5 separate regions of the Homo sapiens genome follow, and regions 1, 2, 3 and 4 are each linked to region 5. The links come from fine-mapping of genetic effects on gene expression. A gene starts in region 5. Each other region holds a variant in brackets. All regions are shown on one strand. Distances are between the middles of the regions.

Region 1 (5,107 bases), 130 kb before region 5:
AAAAATTAGCCAGGGGTGGTGGTGGGCACCTGTACTCCCAGCTACTCAGGAGGCTGAGGCAGGAGAATGGCGTGAACCCGGAAGGCGGAGCTTGCAGTGAGCTGAGATTGCGCCACTGCACTCCAGGCTGGGCAAAAGCCAGACTCCGTCTCAAAAAAAAAAAAAAAAAAGAGAAATTAAGAAAAGGGTTCAGAACCCTCTCTGGGATACATTAAATTTGGGGAATTAAATTTTTAGTGCAGTTTTATTTTTCTCTTACATTGCAATCTGATGAACTGCTTTTCAAACATTTATTGGCTTTAGAGAACTTGAGTAGGCCTGTTTTAATTACTTCTCCAAGTCCTCTTCTAGTATTCTAATTAACTGCTTTTCAATACCCTGATAATTGGTCATAGAGATACAAACAATACAGTTGAAAAACAAGGACCAATTGTCTAGGGGAATCCACAGCTCCGAAGGAGAGCAGGGATGGAGCAGTGAAGAAATGTCACTTTTTCTCTTTTTTCATAGGAAAGGGACTTCTGTGTTGCTGTGACCCTGTGATGTGCTGCAGAACATTTAGGCTTCAGAGTCAAACAGCCTGGGTCTCCAATTTCAGGGCTGTCATTTGTTAGTTGAGTGAACCCAGAAAGTTGCTTAACTTTTCCGAGCTTCATTTCTTCAACTAATATTTGGAATAAAAGTACCCTTGTCCTGGATTTCTTGGGAGGATTATAAGTATCATATAAGAAATTTCCATCTTAGTGCCAGGAACTGAAGAGGCACTCAGGACCTGGTGACAAAAGTTATCAATACATTATGCTACAATAGATGTGCCCGTTATTGGTGAAAAGGCATAAACCTAGAGGTACCTGGGGCTGAAGACAGAGTAAGGGTTATCTTGGACAGATTGGCCTGGTTAATGTCTCAGTAGCTTTGATTTAAGAAAGGTCTTCTCTGAACGGCTTTCCCTTTGGTGGTGTGGTGTTTTCCATCCATAGATGTTGGTTACTTCTACAGATGAAATGCCCATTAGAAACATGCCCAACGTGTCCTAAAATTATTTTCCATTCTTGGTCCTCCCTAGATTTTTTGTTGGCGTGGCAGCTGAACTTGTTGGCAGATTATATTGGGCTCCAAGACAAAGGTTGACAATTTCTCCACGTCTCTGTTTGGGTGTAAAGTGGAGACACAATTTTTAGAACTTCTGGGAGAGTCTTCTCTCACTGTCAGCCTAGACTGTGGAGGCCTGAAAGTATGGTGTCTGTCTCAGGGGGCAATGGGTTACTTGAAGGATATATTTTATCCACAGCCTTTTTTGTCTTGTTCATTTCAGAATTTTGCCTACAAGTATATTTCACCTACAGTGAATAAAGATTAATGGTTGATTGAAGTCATCTGGATAACATATTGGAAAACTTCTTGACAGGAATAGTTTAAATTAGAAAGCAGAAATAAACTTTTGACTTTAAGGAAATATTTCATGTCTGTCAACATAAAGCAACTTGGCACTATTAATCTATATCCACAAATACTTTCATGTCATATGACCACTTTTTTATTGGACACCACCTTCTGGAAAAATCTAAAATATGTAAAACACTAAATTCACAAAAGTGATTGTCCTAGAGTTATTTATAACAATAAGTTAGAAACATAACATCATTGAAAATTTGATTAAATCACTTTGGAGACATCCACTTGATGAGATGTTATACGGTCGTATAAAAGTGCACGGAAACAGGTCAGGCATGCTGGCTTGCATCTGCAGTCCCAGCTACTTGGGAGGTTGAGGCAGGAGGATGACTTGAGGCCAGGAGCTTGAGACCAGCCTAAGCACTATAGTAAGGTTCCCTCTCTTAAAAAAAAAAAAAAGCCGGGCACAGTAGCTCACCCCTCTAATCCCAGCACTTTGGGAGGCCAAGGTGGGCAGATCACTTGAGGTCAGGAGTTCGAGACTAGCCTGGCCAACATGGTGAAACCCCGTCTCTACTAAAAATACAAAAATTAGCTGAGCATGGTTGCAGGTGCCTGTAATCCCAGCTGCTTGGGAGGTTGATGCAGGAAAATTGCTTGAACCCAGGAGGTGGAGGTTGCAGTGAGCCAACTTATGCCACTGCACTCCAGCCTGGGTGACAGAGCCAGACTCCATCTCAAAAAAAAAAAAAAAAAAGTTCAGAAACTCCAAGGCTAAGTACTTTGGTATTATACATTACTAGCAAAAAACATGGTTTGAAAATTGAGGTGCAATATTATCACTATCTAACAATCTAACACAGATGCATAGAAAGATATTAGCAGAAAATACACTAATATTTTAAAAAGTGGAAAAATTCTGTTCTAATTTTTCTTTTTCCTTTCCTTCCTTCCTTCCTTCCTTCCTTCCTTCCTTCCTTCCTTCCTTCCTTCCTTCCTTCTTTCTTTCTTTCTTTTTTTTTTTTGACAGAGTCTCAGTCTGTTGCCCAGGTTGGAGTACAGTGGTATCTTGTACCACTTGGCTCATTATAACCTCTGCCTCCTGGGTTCAAGTGATTCTCTTGCCTCAGCATCCTGAGTAGCTGGGACTACAGGAGTGTGTTACCACACCTGGCTAATTTTTGTATTTTTAGTACAGACGGGATTTCACCATGTTGGCCATGCTCATCTTGAGCTCCTAACCTCAGGTGATCCACCCACCTCGGCCTCCCAAAGTGCCTGGATTATAGACATGAGCCACCGTGCCTGGCCTAAGAGTCCAGAAATGCCTAATTTTTCTTTAGTGCCTTTTAGTTGCCTCTTTTTTTATTAATATAAAAAATACCAGAAACACTGAGAAAATAAAAAGAAATAAAACCCTAGAAGTTACTAGGAAGAAAAAAAAAAAGTGAATGGCACGGAAGATGAGCAAGCAGATAGTGAAATGCCTGAAGTGGACATGGTGAGGGAGGGAGGAAACTATGATACTGGGTGAAGCACAGAGTGAATC[T/C]TGTGAAATGGTGATGTGAAAAGCAGCCTCCTTTAGTGATGTCCTATTCTTGCTCTATCACATTTTAGTGCTTCATGGGCCATAAGGAGGCTTGGAGGCAAGGAAGTTACCAGCATTGTTGGATACCACGTTTTGCCTGTCTGAAGGCCTCGTCCCTTACATGTCCGTATAGACATGTTTCTCTGTCTTTTGAGGTTGGGTGGATTAAGTAGGCCAGATGGTGTGTCAAAGGTGGCAACAAGGCTGTAGTAGCACTGGACACTCAGGAATGCCAGGAACACAGTCCCCCAGATTTAACAGTTTCTGAGAATAAAGCACAGTTCCTGGACAATGAAAGATTTCTTTGAAGCAAAATTTCTGGTAAGGAGATGGACATTCACAAAGATCAGAATTCATAGCACATTTCAATATCTGCAGACCTACAGATCTATGCAAGGCTCTCCCTGGGAATGGAAAGAACTCACTGACAGTTCCTTATTTTCGAGAACATGGGTGGCAGCAGGGGTGCCCTGGGTGCCTTGCAGAGCAGTGTGGCTCACTCTACACAGACACAAAGCCTCTGAGTTTCAGCTCCCACTTCCCTTGTAGGTAACCAGAACTTGCATCCTCACCTTTAGAGAGTCAGCAGCAATGGTGAACTCCTCAAGTGAGGAGAGAAAGGATAGCTCAAATCCAGAAGCCTGCTCTTTGGTGAAAAATGATGTCTTTGATGAGTGAGGCTGCAGATCTAACTTTACTTGAAACTGCCTAAAAAATATATATATACATTTTTTTTTGCTATTAAAAAAACCATAGAAAACCCAAGAGAGTCCTTTCAAACTTCAGAAATAGGATGTACAGAGGAGGAGGACTGTGAGAGAGAGTTCGAATATGAACAAAGCAGGGGGCAATTTTTATATGTTACTTAGGCATATAACCTTCTGCAGTGAATTTCTTTAGAGTTGATATTTCTTTTTTATTGTTTCCCACACTGCTTCAGATATTTTCAGACAGATTTTTTTGGTTTTGGTTTTTTAGCTACACTGAGCTCGTCCTTAATGTGGGAGCTGCCATCCCAGAATCTTTTCTCAATATATTTTGGATGAACTGCTGCTTGAGTTTCCCTGAGTGAGTGATTAAAGTGACTGTTCCTATTTGTTTTCTGCAAACACAACAAACTATAATTCGTTCTAAGGAGAGCTCAAAGGCAGGAAGCCATTTGTCTGCTGACAACCTTTTCTCAGAACAACCTGTGATGCCTCTTCTAGCTGGGGCTGGACATCCATCCTGGCTCCCAACTGGTGTCCTTGAGGTGGGGCCTATGGGGCTGGACTTAAAGCATAGTTCTCTTGATTAGAAGCTGCCGTCTGTCCTGCTGGGCCTCTGGAGTCTGCCTTTAGTAGTGCTGTGTCACAGGAATAGTCCCAGACTGAGACACAGAACCTGGAATTTAGCCAGTGACAAGCCGTGCTAGCTTTCAAAGGTCGCTGTGTGGGCCTCGGTGTCTTCCTTAGTTAAATGGGTGCACTGGATGCTATAATCTCTAGGTTTCACTCTGACACTAAGAATTTGTGATTTTTTCTTCTGATTCCTGGTCCAAGGGTTCCTTCTCTCCTGGAGATGGAGACACCATGACCACTCTCATGGATCTTTTCTTCTTGGAAGAAGGGGTGAATATAGAGAATGACAAAGAAAAAGTGAGATGACAGTGATCAGTGTTATGAAGAACATGGCTTGGGTAGGGCTGGTTCCTTGTATTGAGTGGTCAAGAATCAAGAAGGTGAATCTGCAGTCCCATCTGTTCAAGGTGCAGCAGAAAGAAGTGAAGCCAGGGATGGAGCGGGGAGCAAGGAGGAATGAGCGGCCACATCAGAGGGACCAGGCCTGCGAACTTGAGCAGGGTGAGGCATCCAGGGCTCCTGGTTCCTGGCACGGCATCCTCCTAGTCCTCTAACCAGGGAGTTTCCTGCTCTGCCCTTGATATGAATGAATGAAGGCAGTCACCGGCAGCATTGATTCTCTGTCAATAATTCTCCCCCTCCTCCCTCATCCCCAAGGCTCAGCTCAGACGCAATTTCTTTCTCTCTTTTTTTGCACAATGGCTTTACTGAAATATAATTCACCAACTATAAAAGTCATTCTTTTTTCAAAGGACAACTTTATGGTTGGTGAACCACAATTCAG
Region 2 (5,107 bases), 350 kb before region 5:
TTTGTAATAAGATGTTTGTTAGAGAGACGGTTTGTTCTGAAATTGGTCAGCTTTCTAACTCTCAACTTTCACATTGTTCCTTATCCTTAGATATAACTTGCTGGGTGATGTCCCACACTTGTTGGGTGATGTTGGTGGTTTTAAAGATGGGCTACCAGGCTGGGTGTGGTGGCTCACGCCTGTAATCCTAGCACTTTAGGAGACCAAGGCGGGCGGATCTCCTAAGGTCAGGAGCTCGAGACAAGCGTGGCCAACGTGGTGAAACCCTATCTCTGCTACAAATACAAAAATTAGCTGGGCATGGTGGTGCATGGCTGTAATCCCAGCTACCAGGGAGGTTGAGGCAGGAGAATCGCTGGAACCCGGGAGGCAGAGGCTGCAGTGAGCCGAGATCGCGCCACTGCACTCCAGCCTGGGTGACAGAGTGAAACTCCATCTCAAAAAAATAAATAAAATAAAATGAAGATGGGCTGCCTACATAAGGAACTCAGGGAAATCACTGCTTTAAAAGCTTTCTTGACAAATGATGCCAGAGAAAATTTAATTTTATGCTGAATGCAAAGCCACAAACATAAATGGATAGTGTAGGGTTTCCTGTTCTAAGATTTCAGGAATAAAATAGGAGAAGCCAAGTTCTGTCCTTGTCCCATGCAACATTATAAATTAGGAGTGCATTTTGATAGTCCCAAAACTATACCTTAATTTAAGAAAATGGAATACAAGCAATAAATATAATACTATAAATACATACAATAATTATGATATTATAAATATGACTCTATAAAAAAGACAGTCCCTGTTTCTTCCCTTCTTATTTGTAAGACATCGTCATCTTCCAAGCTGTCTTAATTAACTGCCACCCATAAGCATGACTGTTGTCACAGATGGGTGCTATTCAAAACGGTTAGCAATTCATTTACACACGCCCCCAAAGGAGAAAACACGATTCATTCAGCTGAAAGAACTGCCTGTGAAAGCAGAGTGGAATTCTCAGTGGTGGAAAATATAAAATAGATTGTCCCGAAATAGACTGCCACTTGGAAAGTGTCTTTTGCTTCTGGTGGTGGTAAGAGCATAGTAAGAGCGTGGCCTACTCCAATGGAAATTGTTCCACACCATGCCACGACAACTAAGCGTGACCACTCTGTCACTTCAGAAAAAGAACTGGTTAAGTACGTTATGCAGCATTTCTAAAAATGTGGGTCCGCAGAACTCTACTTTCTCTGAATGCTCATAGATGTATTTGAAATAGTGTTGTGGTCAAATAACATGACCAGAAATGCTCTTAGTGTAGGCTATCGTAGAGTGTTTAATTTCATTACCAATGAAATCCTTTCTTCTCACTGAGGAGCTCCTGACACTAGTGTTTCTAGAAACTGGCTTTAGGAAACATTGGCTTCAGAGGTTATTTTAACTCAGAAGTATTCCCATGCACATGCACAAATATCTGCATGCATATATTAAATATGAATTTGGAAAAACTGGGCCAGTGTTCTCTGTGCCCTGTAATTTACTACATAGTTTACTGTGAATTATACATATATAATTATAATTATATATGTATAAATACACATATATATACACTTAAGTATTTATTATAAAATTGAACTATTCATTTCATGGTGAAATCTTTAGTTAAGAATCGCTACACAGCACATTGTCTCTGCCCTCAAGACCTCAGTTGGGTGGGAGCAAAAACAGACATGGGAAAAAACAGTTTCAATGTATGTGGAGAAGATGTTTTTGAGCTACTGCTAAAGAATGTTCTGGGAGACCAAAAGAGAAGAAATTTACTTCATTTTCGGACAGACTAAGTATTTCATTTGTTGGACATACTTCATTTGATAACAGTGGATCTTGGAGGAGACAAATGCTTGAACTGAGTACTGAAGAATAAACAGGGGTTAGTAATTCAAAGAACAAAGTTAAACGGGGCTTGCGTTCTAGGCAAAGACACATCCTGAGGCATAGAAGAGCATGTCAAATAATAGGTGGGAAGCTTTTTTTTTTTTTTTTTGAGACGGAGTTTCACTCTTGTTGCCTAGGCTGGAGTGCAATGGCACAATCTCAGCTCACTGCAA[C/A]CTCCGCCTCCTGGGTTCAAGTGATTCTCTTGCCTCAGCCTCCCAAGTAGCTGGGATTACAGGCCTGTGCCACCACGCCCGGCTAATTTTTGTATTTTTAGTAGAAACGGGGTTTCTCCATGTTGGTCAGGCTGGTCTTGAACTCCTGACCTCAGGTGATCTGCCCGCTTCAGGCTCCCAAAGTGCTGGGATTACAGGCGTGAGCCACCGCGCCTGGCTGGGAAGCTTTATTAGGAAGGAAGACGGGAAGATGAAACTGAAAGACACTGAGAGACCAGGTCATGGAAATAGTGTAGACTCTCTGGTTCTCAAACATCATGGCACATTAGAATCAACCAGAACTTGTGATTCAATAAGGCCAAATGAGGAGTAGGATGATCTGTATTTTGGATAAGTTCTTTAAGTGATTTTATGTGTCCAGCCAGCATGAAGGCCTTTGGGAACCACTGCTATAAGATCACTGAAGGGTTTTGAGTCATTGAATGGGTCACTTTGCATCTTAAAAAGAAAACCTCATTAATTCAAAATATTGTGACTACTAATACATGCTCATTACAGAGAGAAATGCACAGACAAAATAAAAAGAGGACAGGGCTCTGTCTTTTGCTTTTTTTTTTTAGATGGAGTTTTACTCTTGTTGCCCAGGCTGGATTGCAATGGCGTGATCTCAGCTCACTGCAACCTCCGCCTCCTGGGTTCAAGCAATTCTCCTGCCTTAGCCTCCTGAGTAGCTGGGATAACAGGTGCCTGCCACCGTGCCCGGCTAATTGTTTTGTATTTTTAGTAGAGACGGGGTTTCACCATGTTGGCCAGGCTGGTCTTGAACTCCTGTCCTCAAGTGATCCGCCCGCCTCGGCCTCCCAAAGTACTGGGACTACAGGCGTGAGCCACCACGCCCGGCTGACAGGGCCCTGTCTTTTATCCTTCAAATCCACTTCCCAAAGGCAACCAGTCTTAATAGTTTGATTTAAACAATTACGTATATAGTCTATACATAGGCATGCAAACAGAACTAAACCAAAATAAGTACATCATGTGCATTGTTCTAATTATACCACATATATTAATTCCCTTAATTTTTGTAACAACCTGGTGGGATAGGGGTTAGTATTACTGCCAATTGACAGATGGGAAAATGAGGACATAAGTTTTCTAAGGTGACAACAGCTAGTAAGTGATGAATCCTGGATTCGAACCCTTGCTTTGTGGCTCCATTACTCTCTATTGCCTCTCATATTATTATGCAATTATTTTCTTTACTTAAAAATATACTTTGCATCCTTAATAGATTAAACATAGAATTTCCATGTGACCCAGCAATTCCATGCCTATGTATATACCCCAAAGAATTGAAAACAGTTACTCAAACAAATACACGCACATGCATGGTTATAGAAGCTCTATTCACAACAGCCAGGAGGTAGAAATAACACAAACGTCCATGGACAGATGAAGAGATTAACAAAATGTGTATGTCCGTATGATGAAATATTATTTTAGCTATAAGAAAGAATAAAATACAGACACATGCTATAATACGGATGAATCTGAAGAAAATGATAGTAAATTTAAAAAGTCAGACATGAAAGGCCACATATTGTATAATTCAACTTACATGAAATGTCCAAAATAGAGAAACAGGGACAAAAAGCAGACTAGCAGTTACCAGAAGCTGAGGGAAACAGTAATGAGAAATGATGCTTAAAACAGGGCTACCTTCTGGGGCACTGCAAATGTTCTGGAACTAGACAGTGGTGAAGACTGCACAACAGTGTGAATGTGTTAGACGTCACTGAGTTCTCTATTTTAAAATGATTTAAGTGGTGAATTTCATGTAATGTGTGTGTATTTTACCAATATCGCTATTTTTAAGCAAAGAATCCAGTGGCATTTAGTATATTCATAATACTGTACAATGAAAGCCTAGAACATAGTAGGTGCTTAATAAAGATAAATATATATTTTTATAAATTTATGTTTTAATAGAATTATGTGCTCTTTAAAAAGATTCAGATAATACAAAAAGTTTTAATTATAATAACTATGTAAGTACAATAGCTAACACATTCATTGTTTATTTTTTTTTATTTTTATTTTTACTTTGAGACAGGTCTCACTCTGTTGCCCAGGCTGGAGAGCAGTGGCACAATCTCGGCCGAGTGCAGCCTCTAACTCCCGGGCTCAAGCAAGCGTTCCACCTTGGCTTCCCAAGTAGCTGGGACTACAAGCATAGGCCATGACACTCAGCTACTTTTGTTTATATTTTGTAGAGATGGAGTCTTACTATGTTGCCCAGGCTGGTTTCAAACTCTTGGGCTCAAGCAATCCACCTGCTTTGGCCTCCCAAAATGTTGAGATTACAGGTGTGAGCCACTGTGTCCAGCCTCATTCATTGTTTACAAGTTCTAGATACTGCTAAGGTTCTATGAATATTAATATGTTTTATCCTCATAACTGCTCTATGAAATGTGTTATTCTCATCCCTGATTTATAGATGATACAACAGAGGCTCAGAAAGGCTAGGTAACTTGACTAACGTCACATAGCTCATAAGTGGCAGAGCCAGAAATACAAACCATACAGCTTGTCTCAGCATTACTAATATCATCAAGTGTCACCTTCTCTCATGACATGAGACGTCCTTTCCTGCTCATATTTGGGGAGGGGTGGAGATTGTCTTCCATGCACCCCTGAGTCCTCCACTTGAGCCCTGCTCCTCTGTGGCATCTATTCCGTACCACAGTGGGTGACCTTTCATTGCATTCCCATTCTGGCCTGGAATGCACTGGTGTTGTGACCCTCACTTCACAGGTCCCTGATGGCAGACTGATGGGTCATGTTGGGAATTGGAGGTGGTGACCTGACACAAAGTTGGTTAAAGGGTCAGAGGAATTAAAGGGAACTGCAACATATGAGGGAAAGAATTGAAAACTTCGCCTTTAGTGTGAATTTCCCCTGAGTCCATGACATGAACACTCTTGTAGGTCTCTTATAGGAACCCTGAGTTCCTGACTTCCACATCCATA
Region 3 (5,107 bases), 130 kb before region 5:
CAGGGTCAAGAGGGCCAGAAGTACATTATGCTCCTACAGTGGAAGAAACTGCAAAGTTATATGTCAGGAAATGTTCATATAGGCAGTGCATGAAGAATTGGGCAAATAGTGTCCCTAACACAAATATATACCATGTGTTATCAATTAAGTGAAATACATGTAAGAAAATTTAGATAAAATACCATTAGATTCTGATGCTAATTTTTTATTGTTATTTTTTATTTTCTTAGAGATCTCATTATGTTACCCAGGCTGGTCTCAAACTCCTGGGCTCAAGCAATCCTTCTACCTTGGCCTCTCAAAGTGCTGCAGTTACAGATGTGAGCCACTGTGCCTGGCCTGATGTTAATTTATAATGCTTTCCTATGAATAAACTGTTAAAACACTTTAGTCAATGTATCCAAATCTGATTGGTGTTATTCAGAATTATTTTGCTTCTCTGTGTATAGATTCTTCTAATTCTTTTCTGTGTTCCTCATGCTTCCAAAGCTATACTTGTCTGCCTTGAATGGTATTACTCAATTAAAATTCTCAGACTCTATATCTGCAATTGTTCTGCCACTTTAAAGATACTATGTCTTTAAAGTTGCTGTGAAAAAGCCTCCAGTTCATTCTGCAGAATACCCATCAGTTATATATTTACGTGACTGAGACGTTATTTCTCTCCTGTGTAATTTTAGTTGCCACATATTGAGAACCTTCTAATGGAAGAATCTACACTAAATCCTTTATATCTGTTTGTCATCTCCTTTAAACCTTACAACAATACTGCAGTATTGATTGAGCAATCCCCATTATGTAAACAAAACTGAACTCAGGAAGATTAAATACATTGCTTAAGGATGAAATGGTAATAAGATCAGAATTCACATAGTTTGGTTTGGCTATGAAGCCAATGGTTTTTCTATTATTTTTCACTTATCTTTTTTTTTTTCATCATGTCCCGTCCTCTTACCCATATACTTGAGTTTTTAGATTTTTCTCTGAGATGTAGTAAAGAATGTTTGGGTGGCAAGTGTTAGTGCCATCTCTTTTTATTCTCTTGAGAGCCTGTGAGTGTGGAAACACGTGTTATTATTATCCTCTGTAAAGCTGCAGGGACTAGTACTTTGAAGTGAAGAGATTTACAGGGACTGGGATGCAGACTCTGTATATTTTTCTCTTCTCTTATTTCAATTACTATGTTTAATCATGGTAATCGAAGGTGTGAGAGTCTATAATTTTGCTACTGGAACTAGCCAGTGAACTTGGACCTAAAGAACTATATTTCTTTATACAGTTCTGGAAGAGTTTGGGAATAATAATAGCATGGGTGTTCTTCACATTGCAATAACATAGAAATAAGATGGCAGAGGATAGTTACTATGCAGCCATACGGCCCACTAGGTTCTAGAGTATTGGGTTTATAAAAGGATTTTTGAATAACTTGGGACTCTTGTTACTAGTGGTCGTTTACCTAACTTCTTGGACAATTTAAGTTAAAGAATAACCCAAAAAGAAGTCAAACTAATTTCAATTTATCTAAATAACCTTGAAGAAAGCCAATTGAAATTTCTTCCCTTCCATTGTCCTCACTTTCCAATGAATATGTTTTACTGTAAAGATATGGTCCAAAAACATGTTTATTTTTCTTCATGTTGTTTTCATATGCCATTCGTGTAGCAAGCACTGTTACGCCATGGCAGTTACTTTGATGTGTGGAAACAGGATGTAAGCTATTATGTTCTTTGCAATGGCTTCCCATTCATCTGTGTCTCAAGCATTAGGAGTTTCAAAAAACCCTATGAGTCCTGATTTGGGTTAGTTTTATCTTCATGAAAGTTAGAAAATAGCATTTCTTTTCTGGATATTATTTGTCTTTATCCTGAATTCTGCAAAACATGTTATAACAAGAATTGTTGGCTATTAATATATGTTACTGGTTTTAAAGTTTTTTATTTATTATTAACAAGAATTGTTGGCTATTGATATATGTTAGTGGTTTTAAAGTTTTTTATTTATTATTTATCTTATTTGATTGTGTTTTAGAGACAGAGTCTCACTCTGTTGCCCAGGCTGGAGTGCAGTGGCATGATCACAGCGCACTGCAGCCTTGAACTCCTTAGGCTCAAGCACTTCACCTGCCTCAGCCTCCTGAGTATCTGGGACTATAGGTGTGAGCCACCAAACGTGTCTAATTCTTGTTTACAATTTATTTCTGTAGAGAAAGG[A/G]TCTTACTATGTTGCCCAGGCCAGTCTGGAACTCCTGGCCTTGGGCAATCCTCCCACCTCGGCCTCCCAAAGTGCTGGGGACCACTGTGCCCAGTCTATTTTCTCCTTTAAATAGTGTTTTTTTTCCTCCTTTAAAAAAAACCAAACCTTTAGATGAGGAGGAAAAGGAAAGGAAACATGATGTTTATGGAGTGATTGTTCAGCATCCAGTCTTACGCTGGGTGCTTTACTTAGTTTATCGCAATGTTAGTTCCATATTACAGATGAAGAAACAATGGCATTTTGATAATGCAAACTGCATAGATCTCTAATTTAGCTTTTTTGGTTGTCAGGCTTTGATGGGTTCAAAATTTGATAGGAAATTTTGTTTGTTTCCTTTCATATTAAAACACTGTTCTTCTACCAGATCCCTAGAAGACTGTGGCCAGCAGGTATTAGCGTCAGGAGGTGAGTATTAGTTTAAATATTGACCTCTGTTATGTTAATAACATGGTGGCAGCATTTGTAGGCCGCCAATGCACACATTCCACTACCTAAAACAAGAGAATTTGCCTTTGACACCCTTCCTGAAACGAGTCCTGAAATTCATTCTGATTAAACCACCATAAGCCTTATGTGCAGCCCAAACTAGTAATTGTGATTAGGGGTGAGGCGGGGGTGAAATGCACTACTCCATTTAACATAGCCCAAGTCAAGAATCCCATCCTTGGAGTTGAGACAGAGTCAACTTTTCAGAATGACGTGGATCTTGAAATGGAAGTGGCAGGCTTTGAGGAAGGCAGACAGACATGGGAGTCTGGGAGCCAGGCAAACCCAGCTGTCCACAACATCATTTATTCTTTCAAAGACGCATCTAGAGAGCACGCTTGCTAAGAACGGTGGGAGAAACTGACAAGAATTAGACATAGTTCCTGTCCAGGCTGCCTATAATTTATTATGGAGAGGGAGGAGCTAAATTAATAACTATAATCAAAACCTGAAATGCTGTGACATAAAAGTGGCAACTACCTATTAGAGTGAGAAGGAGAATTACTTTTTGGTACAAATAATGGAAAATTTTCAAAGGGGGTGAAAGATTTCTTAGAGCTAGAAGGGGTACTTAGGAATTTTTTTTAACTCTGTGTGATATGATGCTGAGAGAAACTGGGACACAGGGAGAGTAAGACTTGTTAGGGAATAAGATAGACATAAAGATGAGGAGAGGTAATGCCCAGGGTTTTAGTAGAAAATATAGGGCTCCAAAGAACAAAAATTACCCAATTTCACTGTTTTACTTGGGATCAGTTTTTCCAATAAGTGTGGTCAAAAAATCAGAAGTGTGTGGACAAAAGTATAATTTCTTGTTGGCTGAAAAATGGTAACTTCTATATTCTTTGTTGAGTTAGCTGTTTGCTCAGGGAACCAGTGTATTGCAAAGTATATTTTCTGTCAGCTTATCTGATTCCTTCTTAAGAATTTCTATCTCTGAATAAAGTTTCAACTGTATTTGTTTACTTATATCTCTTTTGCTTTAAAAGAAGACACAAAATACCTGAGCTTTCAGCTAAGTTTTCAACTCAAATTCTTTGTTTCTAGGTATTAAGGGGAGGGTTTTCCTTTACAGATTGGAGATGGATAAAGTGCCTGCCAAGGGGCTGAGGGTGTTGTGAGCATTTAAAAGGGCTCAGCTCTATGTAAGCTTCCCAGGAAGATAGGTGAGAGGTCCTCTATCTAAGAGCCTCAAATTTACAGGATGGATATGATCAAAAGAGAATCAAGCCATGTCCAAACCATGGGTGCATCTGAGGACAGATAGGCCTTGCTAATTATGTGTGTCTTCCACTAAGGTGAAAATTTGCTTCATTTCCTAAATACATAATAGACACTATGAGGGAATGTGGTTCAGAAAATATGCATGAGGGCTTGCGAGAAGAAGAATGAAAAGCTGTTTTCAAAGCTACAAAAGGAAAGCTCAGTTTCTTTCTTCTACATTTAAAGTAGGTGGCCTAAAACTGAACCAATAAAAGATAATTGCAAATATATTTCTTATTGAAATCTCCCTTTCCCCCAAAGGTTAAGAGGATTGAGGACATTTCTGAAAAAGGAGGAGTAGATAGTCAAAATCTAGGTGGAGGTTGTGTATTTGCTGATTGATGCATTTCAGACCATAATGGAGAAGACCACTTTGTTCATTAACAAACGTTTCCATATCAGTGCCTGCCTTTTGTGGCTCATGCTGTCCATCCCTGACATTTTCTGCCCCCTCTTTCTTTCTCTCACCCCCCTTGTTGTGTACTAAATCCTTTCTGCCTTTAAGTGTCACTCCAAAACCAGCTTCCTGCATGAAGCCTTCTCAGATTCCCCCTTCTCCCAGTTTGGCTTGTTCTCCCACAACAATGCTCTGATGCACTATCTTATTTTACCTTCATGAATTTCTACAACATGCATCTGTCTCCTTCACTAAATTATAAGCTCCTTGAGGGCAGGACTGCTCTTCTTTTACTGTGTGTCCCTCCTTCGTTACTGAACAATCTTTATACATCTCTTGGGCAAACACATATATCTTAAATCTGATTGTTTACATTGCTCATGAGTATAATTGTTAAATATAATTGTGTGATAAATGTACCAGGAAGTGGATCCCCTGGTCTAATTGCCTTGCGAAGTATTCTTTCTTCTCTCTGGGGTGAAATAAGTCAATTATATTGAAAGTTAGAATTGTTAAAAAGTTTATAACTAGTAAGGGTGATTAGAAGCCCTAAATTCAGCAAATGTTCAGCAAAGTATTTGGTGTTTACTAGGTATCTAGTATCATGCTAGTGATGAACTAAATAGTCACTCTCAGCACCCTCATGGGGACTATAGTCTAGTGAGGAAAATGGTCAATTCATATGCGAATTAGCAAATAGATTCACAGA
Region 4 (5,107 bases), 21 kb after region 5:
ACTTCTGCCACTTAAAAATGTAGGAGACTAGTGACTGGGAAGGGATAGGGAGAGATTTGTTAAAGATGTGAACCAAAAGTATCTGAGACAGGTTGCAATCAATTTAGAAAGTTTATTTTGCCAAGGTTAAGGACACGCCCATGACACAGCCTCAGGAGGCCCTGATGACATGTTTCCAAGGTGGTCGGGGCACAGCTTGATTTTATACATTTTAGGGAGACATGAGACATCAATCAATATGTGTAATACGTACATTGGTTCTTCCTGGAGAGGTGGGACAACTTGAAGCAGGGTTGCTTCCAGGTCTTAGGTAGATAAGAGACAATCAATAGCATTCTTCTGAGTCTCTGATGAGGCTTTTACTGAATACACGATTTACATGTGAGATGACATAGAGGAATAGTCACTTATGCCTTAGTCTTGCTTAGTGAATCTGCGTTTTTACATAAACAACTGAGCAGAGGAAGCCATCAGATGTGCATTTGTGTCTGGTGAGCAGCGGGATGACTTTTGGCTCTGTCTGTCCTCTGTCCCCTACCAGTGAAGATAAGCTATCAATTATCAATTTACATTGCCAGGGTGAAATCCAACAGAACTGTTTTAGGGTAAAGATCTTGAGGCCCACAAGGAATTTCCTTGTGGACAAATTATGAGGGAGGTATGTAGCTTTTTTTTTTTTAATCTTTGTAGCAATCTTATTTAGGAATAAAATGAGAGGCACGTTTGCCTGATGGAGTTCCCAGCTTGACTTTTCCCTTTGGCTTAGTGATTTTGGGGTCCAAGAGATTTATTTTTCTAAGGATACAAATTTACCCTGCTCTGGTTATTATACATTTTCTTTATTGAAACATCACTATGTCCCCCATGAATATATGCAATTATTTTTCAATAAAAAGCAAAAATAAAAACCCCCAAACAATAAAAATGTATTGTTAACAGGAGATTTATAAGAGTAACATTCCTTTGCCCAGGGACCATGGAGAGGGAAGATTTCATTTGACTTGGGTAGTGACCACCATTTTAGTCCATCCATTTCAGGAGCCTGAAGGAAACAGTTTATCATTTTATTTTGTAGTGTGACTTCGAAGAGTTTGTCTCTTTTATGACAAGTGGCTTAAGCTATATTCTAGTTGTATCTCAAGGAAGTAAACACAATCCTCCCTCTGAAGAAACCGAACCACAGACTGACACCGAACCTAACGAACGATCTGAGGATCAACCTGAGGTCGAAGCCCAGGTTACACCTGGAATGATGAAGAACAAACAAGACAGGTATAGCTCAAGACCAGGAATTGTGTTACTTGCAATGTGTTATTGGGTAATGAAGCGTAGTGTAGGCACCTCAGTACCTAAGGGCAAATGTTTTTATGTTAAAGGCATAAGTATTTCTTCCAGTCAACCTAACATACTGTATATTCAGAAGAGCTGTGTGCCAGGTGAAGTGTCAGATACCTGGCATTGGAAAAAGTAGTTGGCTTGTGGGTTGTAGGGTAGTAAGAATTTACAGATGACAGTGTAGGTTTGAAAGAAAAGTTTTGTTAGATAGAAAGAGCACTGCAGAAGAGTGCAGCGGGGCTCCTCAGTGAGAGAGGACTGAGCTCGCCATGGTGGATTTTTGTTTAGGGATATTTATGGACCTTAAAGCTGGAGCTTAAGGGTAATTTGGACCTTATTAGCCACACAGGTCATGATAAATAATTGCACTTGTAGACATGTTGGTGCCTTGATGTCAGCAAGGGTTGCACAATGAGTTTGAACATGCATGCATTCCGGAGATGTATAGAAATTCTAGTTACTTATAACTTTTTTTTTAAGCCTGGTACCAGATGCCAGCTTTAAATAATAGGGAAGTCTAGTTACTTCTAAATTCCTCAGATAAGGAGTTTTGCCTCTGGATAGTCAGCTTGGTGGCCCTCAGGTGATCTTTGCTCCCCTCACTGTGACTGCCCTGAAAGTTTATGTCAAGAACACTAGAAAGGGAGGCCTTTTCCCTGTTTGTCTTCCTAGAGCTGGGCATACCAGTCTGGCCACAAGGGCTGGGGCTTGAAGGGTGTATTGGAACCATGTATAATCCCTGCCAACTCAGTCTCCTCTCCCATCTCCCCACCTTCCCCTTCCACCTTCCCGGTGCCCTAAAAACATGAAACATGCACTTTTACTTTAGATGGTTTGTGGTTACAAATTACTGAGAACAAAACGGTTGTATATTTTTTGTTGATGGATTTTAAAATATTAGAAAATGGATATAAATAATTTGTAGAATGTTGGTTTTATGCGCTGCTGTTTGCGCCTGTTATTCCTCTGAAGACTCAGAGAATGGAGAGTGTAACAAAGCAGTTGTCAGGCTGCACCGGAAAGAAAGTCAGGTGAGCAAGAACATACTTAGAGTATCTGAGCCTTGAGGCTTCCTGGGATGTGTCTCCCCGTGCTTGGCAGCCCATCTCCATTGCATTTTCTGGCTGAGACTATCCAGAATGTCCCTTGTTGGTCCTTCTTGACTTATTAATGAATCATAGTGGCTTTTCTTGGGTGCCTACCTCTGTTGGCTCCTAGTGATGCCATATTTTTAGGAAGTGGGAGATCCTAATATCATTAATTCCAAGTTGTACGCAGGATAAAGGAACTCATAAGGTAAATCCTGCTGGCAAGGAGCTTTTTAAACAGTAGCAGTTACTTTCAGGGTTTTAAGGGAAAATAATAATGAGTGGGCTGAGGGAAGGTTTGTTGGGTAGGGTGTGTTAAGTTTAAAAAGATACCAGATTTTATCCTAGAAATTTTGAGCCATTCAAAAAACAAAAAGCGTTCTA[T/C]GAAGCACTCATTAATGTGACGAGTGAAGTCATCATTCCATGGGGCTATTGTTTAGGTAGTAAACCTCCATTACAACCAACTTTGAGAAGCTCCAATTGTCCAATACTCGCATGACACCATGGACAATTTAGGCATGTTAATTGGCATGTCAGAAGGAAATGCCAGCAGCTCTCCCTCCAGAACAAGGGCAAGCACTATAGGGGCCAGATCAGAGTGAAATGAAATGTGTACACCTTGCTCTGGCACAGTCTACAGTATTTCCTTTCTAAACTTAGAGTCCCCATGTGCCTTTGGCCCATGTTTATCCCAAGCTGGCCACAGCAGACAGCATGGGACAGTGTGGAGCATGCTTGTTTGGTGTGCTCGGGCTCAGAAACTGATACTCAAAATATGGCGCTTTGACATGCTGAACTGAAAAAGCCTCACAATCTCTCTGACTTGCCCCAGCACTCCCGGCCAGCAGTCTCTCTCAAAGCACAGGATGAAGCTGAATTTCTTTTATCTGCCTAAGATCCTCAGATCCGACAGGAACAATTATTTTTCTTCCTCTCCCTATAAGACCAAGAATGTAACCACATCTGAACGGAGATAGTGTACAAGTTAATTTCTGTGCGTTGGTCCATTCATTCTCCCTCGTCATCCTTTACTGTCCTTCAACAGAATTCTTCTCCCTGCTCCCATTACCTGTTTTGCCAGATGGTCTATAACAGGGGTGTCCAATCTTTTGGCTTCCCTGGGGCACACTGGAAGAAGAAGAATTGTCTTGGGCCACACATAAAATACACTAACACTAATGATAGCTGATGAACTTAAAAAAAAAAAAAGAACTCGCAAAAAATATATATCATAATGTTTTTAAAAGTTTACCAATTTGAGCCGGGTGCGGTGGCTCATGCTTGTAATCCCAGCACTTTGGAGGGCCGAGACAGGCAGATCATGAGGTCAGGAGATCGAGACCAGCCTGATCAACATGGTGAAACCCAGTCTCGACTAAAAACACAAAAATTAGCTGGGTGTGGTGGTGCATGCCTGTAGTTCCAGCTACTTGGGAGACTGAGACAGGAGAATCGCTTGAACCTGGGAGGTAGAGATTGCAGTGAGTCAAGATCGAGCCACTGCACTCCAGCCTGGGTGACAGAGTGAGACTCCATCTCAAAAAAAAAAAAAAAAAAAAGTTTACCAATTTGTGTTGGGCCACATTCAAAGCCTTCCTGGGCCTCATGCAGCCAGTGGGCTGCAGGTTGGACAAGCTTGGTCTATAGGCTTCTGAACCTCATTGCAGGGTGGGTACTCACTCTGTGGTTCTCTCTGTGTACATGTTAATCAAATTTGTCTGCTTTTTCTCCAACTAATATACTTTTTGTCTGTTGATGCCCGTTGGTTTTTCAGTAAAACTTGAGAGGACAGAGGGGAAGCTTTCCCCTGACTTCTATAATGCTTGTTCTTATTTTCACAGCTCTTGCTCTGGAGGGAGGGCCTGATAGGCACTGTCACTTCCATGTGACATCTTTCAAGTAGGTCCAGAATCTAAAGGAATAAGGACAAAAAACTCTCATGCGTAATTTATTCAGTTGTTCACTTTCACTCTTTATTGCCCCCTCTCCCCTATCTCCCAGCCTGCTCACTCTCCTCTCTGGGTGGTGGGGATGGAGAGGGTGAGACAGGAGAGAAGTTAAAAGCAGAGCAATTGAACTGGGAGTGATTGGTGACCCCTCTGCGTACAGAGCAGCGGAGTCCCAGAGCTTTATTGGCTGGTTATTCCTGTGGAGACAAACACTCACAGCTTATGAATTCACATGCTGTGGGGAAACTCTCTCCATGCCATCGATGGTCTGCCTGCTCCAGTGGCTGCAGAAGGGTGGGGGAAGAGCCAGGGAAACAGGGCAGAGGTACCCATGTTTGTCATTCACATTCCAGCTTCTTTCATGATGGCTTTTTATTACATTATTTACATGTCTGTCTCTTTAATCAGCCTGTTTTAAGAAATCAAAGGATAGTGTAATTTATCTTTGCTTTCCAGTCTTTCTACAGATCAGGAAGGTGTGGTTCCATTAGCTACATTGCTCAGAGTCACACAGGTAGTAACTGGCAGAGTCTTCTCATTCATTCACTTATTCTGTTATGTGTTGATTCATTCATCTAGTATTTATTAAAGACCTACTATATGCCAAATCCTAGAGATACAAAGATGGGGAAGAATTAGATGATGACCTCTGAGCTCACTTTCAGTTTAAGTCTTTATGACAGAGTGAAGGTGACATTTCCAACCACCTCTACTATATTGTATTCCTCTGTCCAT
Region 5 (5,107 bases):
TTGAAAATAGCAGATGGTTTTAGACCCTTGAGGAATCGCCACACTGTCTTCCACAATGGTTGAAATAATTACACTCCCACCAACCGTGTAAAAGCGTTCCTATTTCTCCACATCCTCTCCAGCATCTGTTGTTTCCTGACTATTTTTAATGATCGCCATTCTAACTAGTGTGAGATGGTATCTCATTGTGGTTTCGATTTGCATTTCTCTAATGACCAGTGATGAAAAACTTTTGTTCATGTGTTTGTTGGCCTCACAAATATCTTCTTTTGAGAAGTGTCTGTTCATATCCTTTGCCCACTTTTGGATGGGGCTGTTTGTTTTTTTCTTGTAAATTTGTTTAAGTTCCTTGTAGATTCTGGATATTAGCCCTTTGTCAGATAGATGGATTGCAAGAATTTTCCCCCATTCTCTAGGTTGCCTGTTTACTCTGATGATAGTTTCTTTGGCTGTGCAGAGGCTCTTTAATTAGATCCCATTTGTCAATTTTGGCTTTTGTTACCATTTGACCCAGCAATCCCAGTACTGGGTATATATCCAAAGGATTATAAATCATTCTATTATAAAGACACATGCACATGTATGTTTATTGGAGCACTATTCACAATAGCAAAGACTTGGAACCAACCCAAATGCCCATCAACGATAGATTGGATAAAGAAAATGTGGCACATATATACCATGGAATACTATGTAGCCATAAAAAACGACGAGTTCATGTTTTTTGCAGGGACATGGATGAAGCTGGAAACCATCATTCTCAGCAAACTAACACAAGAACAGAAAACCAAACACCGCATGTTCTCACTCATAAGTGGAAGTTAAACAATGAGAACACGTGGGCATAGGGAGGGAAACATCACACACTGGGGCCTGTCAGGGGGTGGGGGGCTAGGGGAGGGATAGCATTAGGGGAAATACCTAATGTAGATGACAGGTTGATGGGTGCAGCAAACCACCATGGTATGTGTATATCTATGTAACAAACCTGCACTTTCTGCACATGTATCACAGAACTTAAAGTATAATAAAAAAAAAAAAAGGAAAGAAAATTGCAGATGGTGAAGTGAAGGAGTACTACATGTCCTGTCTTGATAGGATATGATCCTGGTCAAAAATCCTTCTGTAGGTAGCCGTGCTCATCTATTAGGTCCACTCCAGGGATGAGGATCCCTACAAAAAGGTTCATTGTGTCCCTCTCTACTCTACAGTTGCTTTCTGTATCTCAGCCTGTGGATTAATCAGAAACTATTGTGAAAAATTATTTCCAGATGCTGCAAGTGGGAGGGAGGAAGGAAAGTAAAGAGAAAAAGAACGAAAGAGAAAGAAAGAAAAAGAAGAGGAAGAAGAAGAAGAGGAAGAAGAAGAGGAAGAAGAAGAAGAAGAAGAAGAAGAAGAAGAAGAAGGAGACGGAGGAGACGGAGGAGACGGAGGAGACGGAGGAGGAGGAGGAGAAGGAGGGGAAGAGGAAGGAGAAGAGGAAGGAGAAGAGGAAGGAGAAGGAGAAGAAGAAGAAGACGAAGGAGACGAAGGACACGGAGGAGACGGAGGAGACAGAGGAGACAGAGGAGGAGGAGGAGAAGGAGGGGAAGAGGAAGGAGAAGAGGAAGGAGAAGAGGAAGGAGAAGTGGAAGGAGAAGAGGAAGGAGAAGGAGGAGGAGGAGAAGAAGAGGAAGAGGAAGAGGAAGAAGAAGAAAGAAGAAGAAGAAAGAAGAAGAAGAAGGAGAAAGAAGAAGGAGAAGGAGAAGGAGATGGAGGAGACGGAGGAGGAGGAGAAGGAGGGGAAGAGGAAGGAGAAGAGGAAGGAGAAGGAGAAGGAGAAGAAGAAGAAGAAGAAGGAGATGAAGGAGATGGAGGAGACGGAGGAGACGGAGGAGGAGGAGGAGAAGGAGGGGAAGGGGAAGGAGAAGAGGAAGGAGAAGTGGAAGGAGAAGAGGAAGGAGAAGAGGAAGGAGAAGGAGAAGGAGGAGGAGAAGAAGAGGAAGAGGAAGAAGAAGAAGAAAGAAGGAGAAGAAGAAGAAGAGGAAGAAGAAGAAGAAAGAAGAGGAAGAAGAAGAAAGAAGAGGAAGAGGAAGAGGAAGAAGAGGAAGAGGAAGAAGAAGAGGAAGAAGAAGAAGAGGAAGAGGAGGAAGAAGAGGAGGAGGAGGAGGAGGAAGAGGAGGAAGAGGAGGAGGAGGAGGAAGAGGGAGAGGAAGAAGAGGAAGAGGAAGAGGAAGAAGAAGAGAAAGAAGAAGAAGAAAAAGAAGAAGGAAGAAGAAGAAAGAAGAAGAAGAAAAGAAGAAGAAAAGAAGAAGAAGAAGAAAAGAAGAAGAAAAGAAGAAGGAAGACGAAGAAGAAGAGGAAGAGGAAGAGAGAAGAAAGAAGAAGAAGAAGAAGAAGAAGAGAAGAAGAAGAAGAAGAAGAAGAAGAAGAAGAAGAAGAAGAAGAAGGAAGAAGAAGAAGAAGAAGAAGAAGAAGAAGAAGAAGAACAAGAAGAAGAAGAAGAAGAAGAAGAAGAAGAAGAAGAAGAAGAAGAAGAAGAAGAAGAAGAAGAAGAACAAGAAGAACAAGAAGAACCAAACCAGGGTAGATGAAGACAAAGTTAAAAAGAAAGAAAAGGCTGGTGCTGGCAGAGAGCCTTCTGCTCCGATTTGAGGTGTATGCATTTTATGCTGTAAAGCGTGGCCAGTCACAGGAGGATTCAAAGGCGAGGAGAGATATGATCAAATCTGCACTTGGGAAAGCGCACCTTGGTGCGCATCTGGGGATAGAGGAACGTAGGGATGGGAGGATGGGGGATGGGAGTTTGGGGATGAGGCAGCTGAAGAACAGAGTCTTGTGATGGTGGAACCAGGACTTCGTTGTTCCTTCATTGTGTGGGCAGAAGAGGTGGAGGATTTTAGGCGCCACCTGGTCTTGTCCCCACTGCCCAGGTATAGCTGCTGTCTGGAGCAGGGGCCTCGAGACGCCGCTCAAGTCTCACGGGCAGATGGGTTGGACAAAACATTGCCCCCCTTCTTCTTCCCAGACAGGCAGGGAATCCCTCTTCTTCCTTTTGCTGAATCAGCTGGAGAAGAAAGCCCAGCAGGAGGCCTGCTAGCCTCAGCCTCGGGCCCTACCAGGGTCCTAGGTACTGGAATGGAACTTCGCCGAGGTCACCGCTCAAACGGCCACAACGAGGGAGCCGATTTAGATCCTCTGGGCCTGTTCCTTCCTTTTCTTTAAACGTCCCAGTCTAGCTTAGAGGAGGACCTGTTTTGTGTAAGGCTTGCCGGAGCAACCAGCACCTTTCCTGGAATACAGTCTTGTTTGTGGCTTTTCCTTTGTTGTACGCTAGCGTGCACTATCGCCCGCACGCTGACTGACCCCTGTTCTACACCGCCCCTGATACCACTGAATAGGGAGTTTGAGAAGTTTATGTCGTGCCCCAGAAAACACTAGTGGCCTTGTTCTCAAGATTAAATATCCTTAGAGCAGCCAGATCTGAAGAGGGACCCCAGAAAGATCCACGGGCATGTTCATTTGTTTGCAATTGATAATATAGGAAACACTTTCTAATATTTCAGGAAAACAAAACCTTTAAAAAAACCAGACGACGTGTAACTCCTAACATTCTTACCTTGCTTCAGGACTGTTGGGAGGATAAGATAGTGTGGCAGCTATAAGCATTTAGCATAGAGCCTAGCATACAATAGTCCTTCCATGACATTAGCTTCTCTCTCCCCAGCAAAGATGACACTGCATAATCCAATGTACAGTGGGGAAATTTTTCACTAGTACATTAAGATGTTATTTGCAGTTAGAAAGAATGAATACTGTAATCCCAGCACTCTGGGAGGCTGAGGTGGGAGGATCACGGGTCAGGAGGTTGAGACCATCCTGGTTAACACGGTGAAATTCTGTATCTACTAAAAATACAAAAAAAATTAGCCCGCCGTGGTGGCGGGTGCCTGTAGTCACAGGTACTCTGGAGGCTGAGGCAGGAGAATCGCTTGAACCCAGGAGACGGAGGTTGCAGTGAGCCCAGATTGTGCCACTGCACTCCAGTCTGGCAACAGAGTGAGACTATGTCTCAAAAAAAAAAAAAAAAAAAAAGAACAATGAATAAGACCTAGTATTTGCTAGCACAAACAGGTGACTGCAGTCAAAAAATCTAAATTGTACATTTTAAAATAACTAAAAGAGTATAATTGGATTGTTTGTAACACAAAGGATAAATGCTTGAGGTGATGGATACCCCATTTACCCTGATGTGATTATTATGCATGGCATGCCTGTATCAAAATATCTCAGATTTAAATACACAAATATTTAAGTACATAAATACAGAGATACATAAATATATACACCTACTATGTACCCACAAAAATTAAAAATTGTTTTAAAAGATGTTATTTGCATGCATAAAGAAAATGTTATTTAAATTTCCTACTTAAAAATTTTTCTTTCTTTTTCCTATGATAGTAGATAAATGGCAAGCAAAAAACGAGAAGTCCAGTTACAGGTGGGTCTGACATATCAACAATTCTTTATCTGGTGCACTAGTGCTTGAATACCTTTTACAGTGCCTTCCACTTTGCAGACAGTCATCAATAATCAAAGCCTGTGGGATGAGATGTTGCAGAACAAAGGCTTAACAGGTATAAGGACTCCCCGGCTGTCTGGCCACCTGGGGTTTGACCCGGAGCTCCTCCTGGCACCCTGTCCCTCTAGAGTCCCCACTTTGACCAAGAAATCCTGCAGTGCCTTTGCCCTGGCCATGGCTCCAGATTGGGATAACTGCTATCCTAGATTGGTAGACTTTGTTATTTCATAAATATCATCATCTTCTAGTGATTGATGTTTACCAAGCCTGGTGTGGACCTTGCAGAGCAATGCAACCTTTATTCAGAAAATTGAAAAATGAACTGAACGAAGACGAAATTCTGCATTTTGCTGTCGTAAGAATTTTGTTTTCATTAAACCACTGTTTTCACATTATATTAAGTTTTTAAGTATCCTCTAATACTTTAAGTATTGTCTTAATTTAAACAACCTGTCAGTTCTTCAAAATAGATAGTCTTTACTTGGCAGTTTTACTATATATTTAATTCTACTAGATCTGAGAATGAATATGATTTTTATCCCA

Which allele goes with the higher level. Alleles are on the strand shown, and positions count from the first base shown. SD is a standard deviation of normalised expression in the study named. Not every link is listed here.
As copies of C replace A in region 2, the expression in thyroid of the gene that starts at base 2,781 in region 5 goes down (large effect, 1.3 SD a copy in GTEx).

The links.
Region 1: its variant is fine-mapped to the expression of NME8 in whole blood (INTERVAL, PIP above 0.99). The same link has a PIP of 0.9 or more in blood mononuclear cells.
Region 2: its variant is fine-mapped to the expression of NME8 in thyroid (GTEx, PIP 0.96).
Region 3: its variant is fine-mapped to the expression of NME8 in whole blood (TOPMed, PIP above 0.99). The same link has a PIP of 0.9 or more in monocytes.
Region 4: its variant is fine-mapped to the expression of NME8 in whole blood (TOPMed, PIP 0.98).

The regions. Positions count from the first base shown.
Region 1 is chr7:37,720,587-37,725,693 of GRCh38, forward strand. All of the region lies in intron 2 of GPR141 (G protein-coupled receptor 141), which reads left to right. Among named protein-coding and RNA genes, the nearest start is that of GPR141, 39 kb to the left of the region's middle. The variant T/C (reference allele first, on the strand shown) is at 2,945.
Region 2 is chr7:37,496,852-37,501,958 of GRCh38, forward strand. No RefSeq gene overlaps it. Among named protein-coding and RNA genes, the nearest start is that of ELMO1, 51 kb to the left of the region's middle. The variant C/A (reference allele first, on the strand shown) is at 2,082.
Region 3 is chr7:37,713,112-37,718,218 of GRCh38, forward strand. The region is part of intron 2 of GPR141 (G protein-coupled receptor 141); the gene reads left to right. Among named protein-coding and RNA genes, the nearest start is that of GPR141, 32 kb to the left of the region's middle. The variant A/G (reference allele first, on the strand shown) is at 2,211.
Region 4 is chr7:37,866,627-37,871,733 of GRCh38, forward strand. NME8 (NME/NM23 family member 8) reads left to right here. Exons shown (of 18, transcript NM_016616.5): 11 at 1,076-1,272. Among named protein-coding and RNA genes, the nearest start is that of NME8, 21 kb to the left of the region's middle. The variant T/C (reference allele first, on the strand shown) is at 2,808.
Region 5 is chr7:37,845,817-37,850,923 of GRCh38, forward strand. It overlaps NME8 (NME/NM23 family member 8), which reads left to right and starts at 2,781. Exons shown (of 18, transcript NM_016616.5): 1 at 2,781-2,912; 2 at 3,008-3,240; 3 at 4,444-4,483; 4 at 4,562-4,619; 5 at 4,813-4,919. The coding sequence starts at 4,451.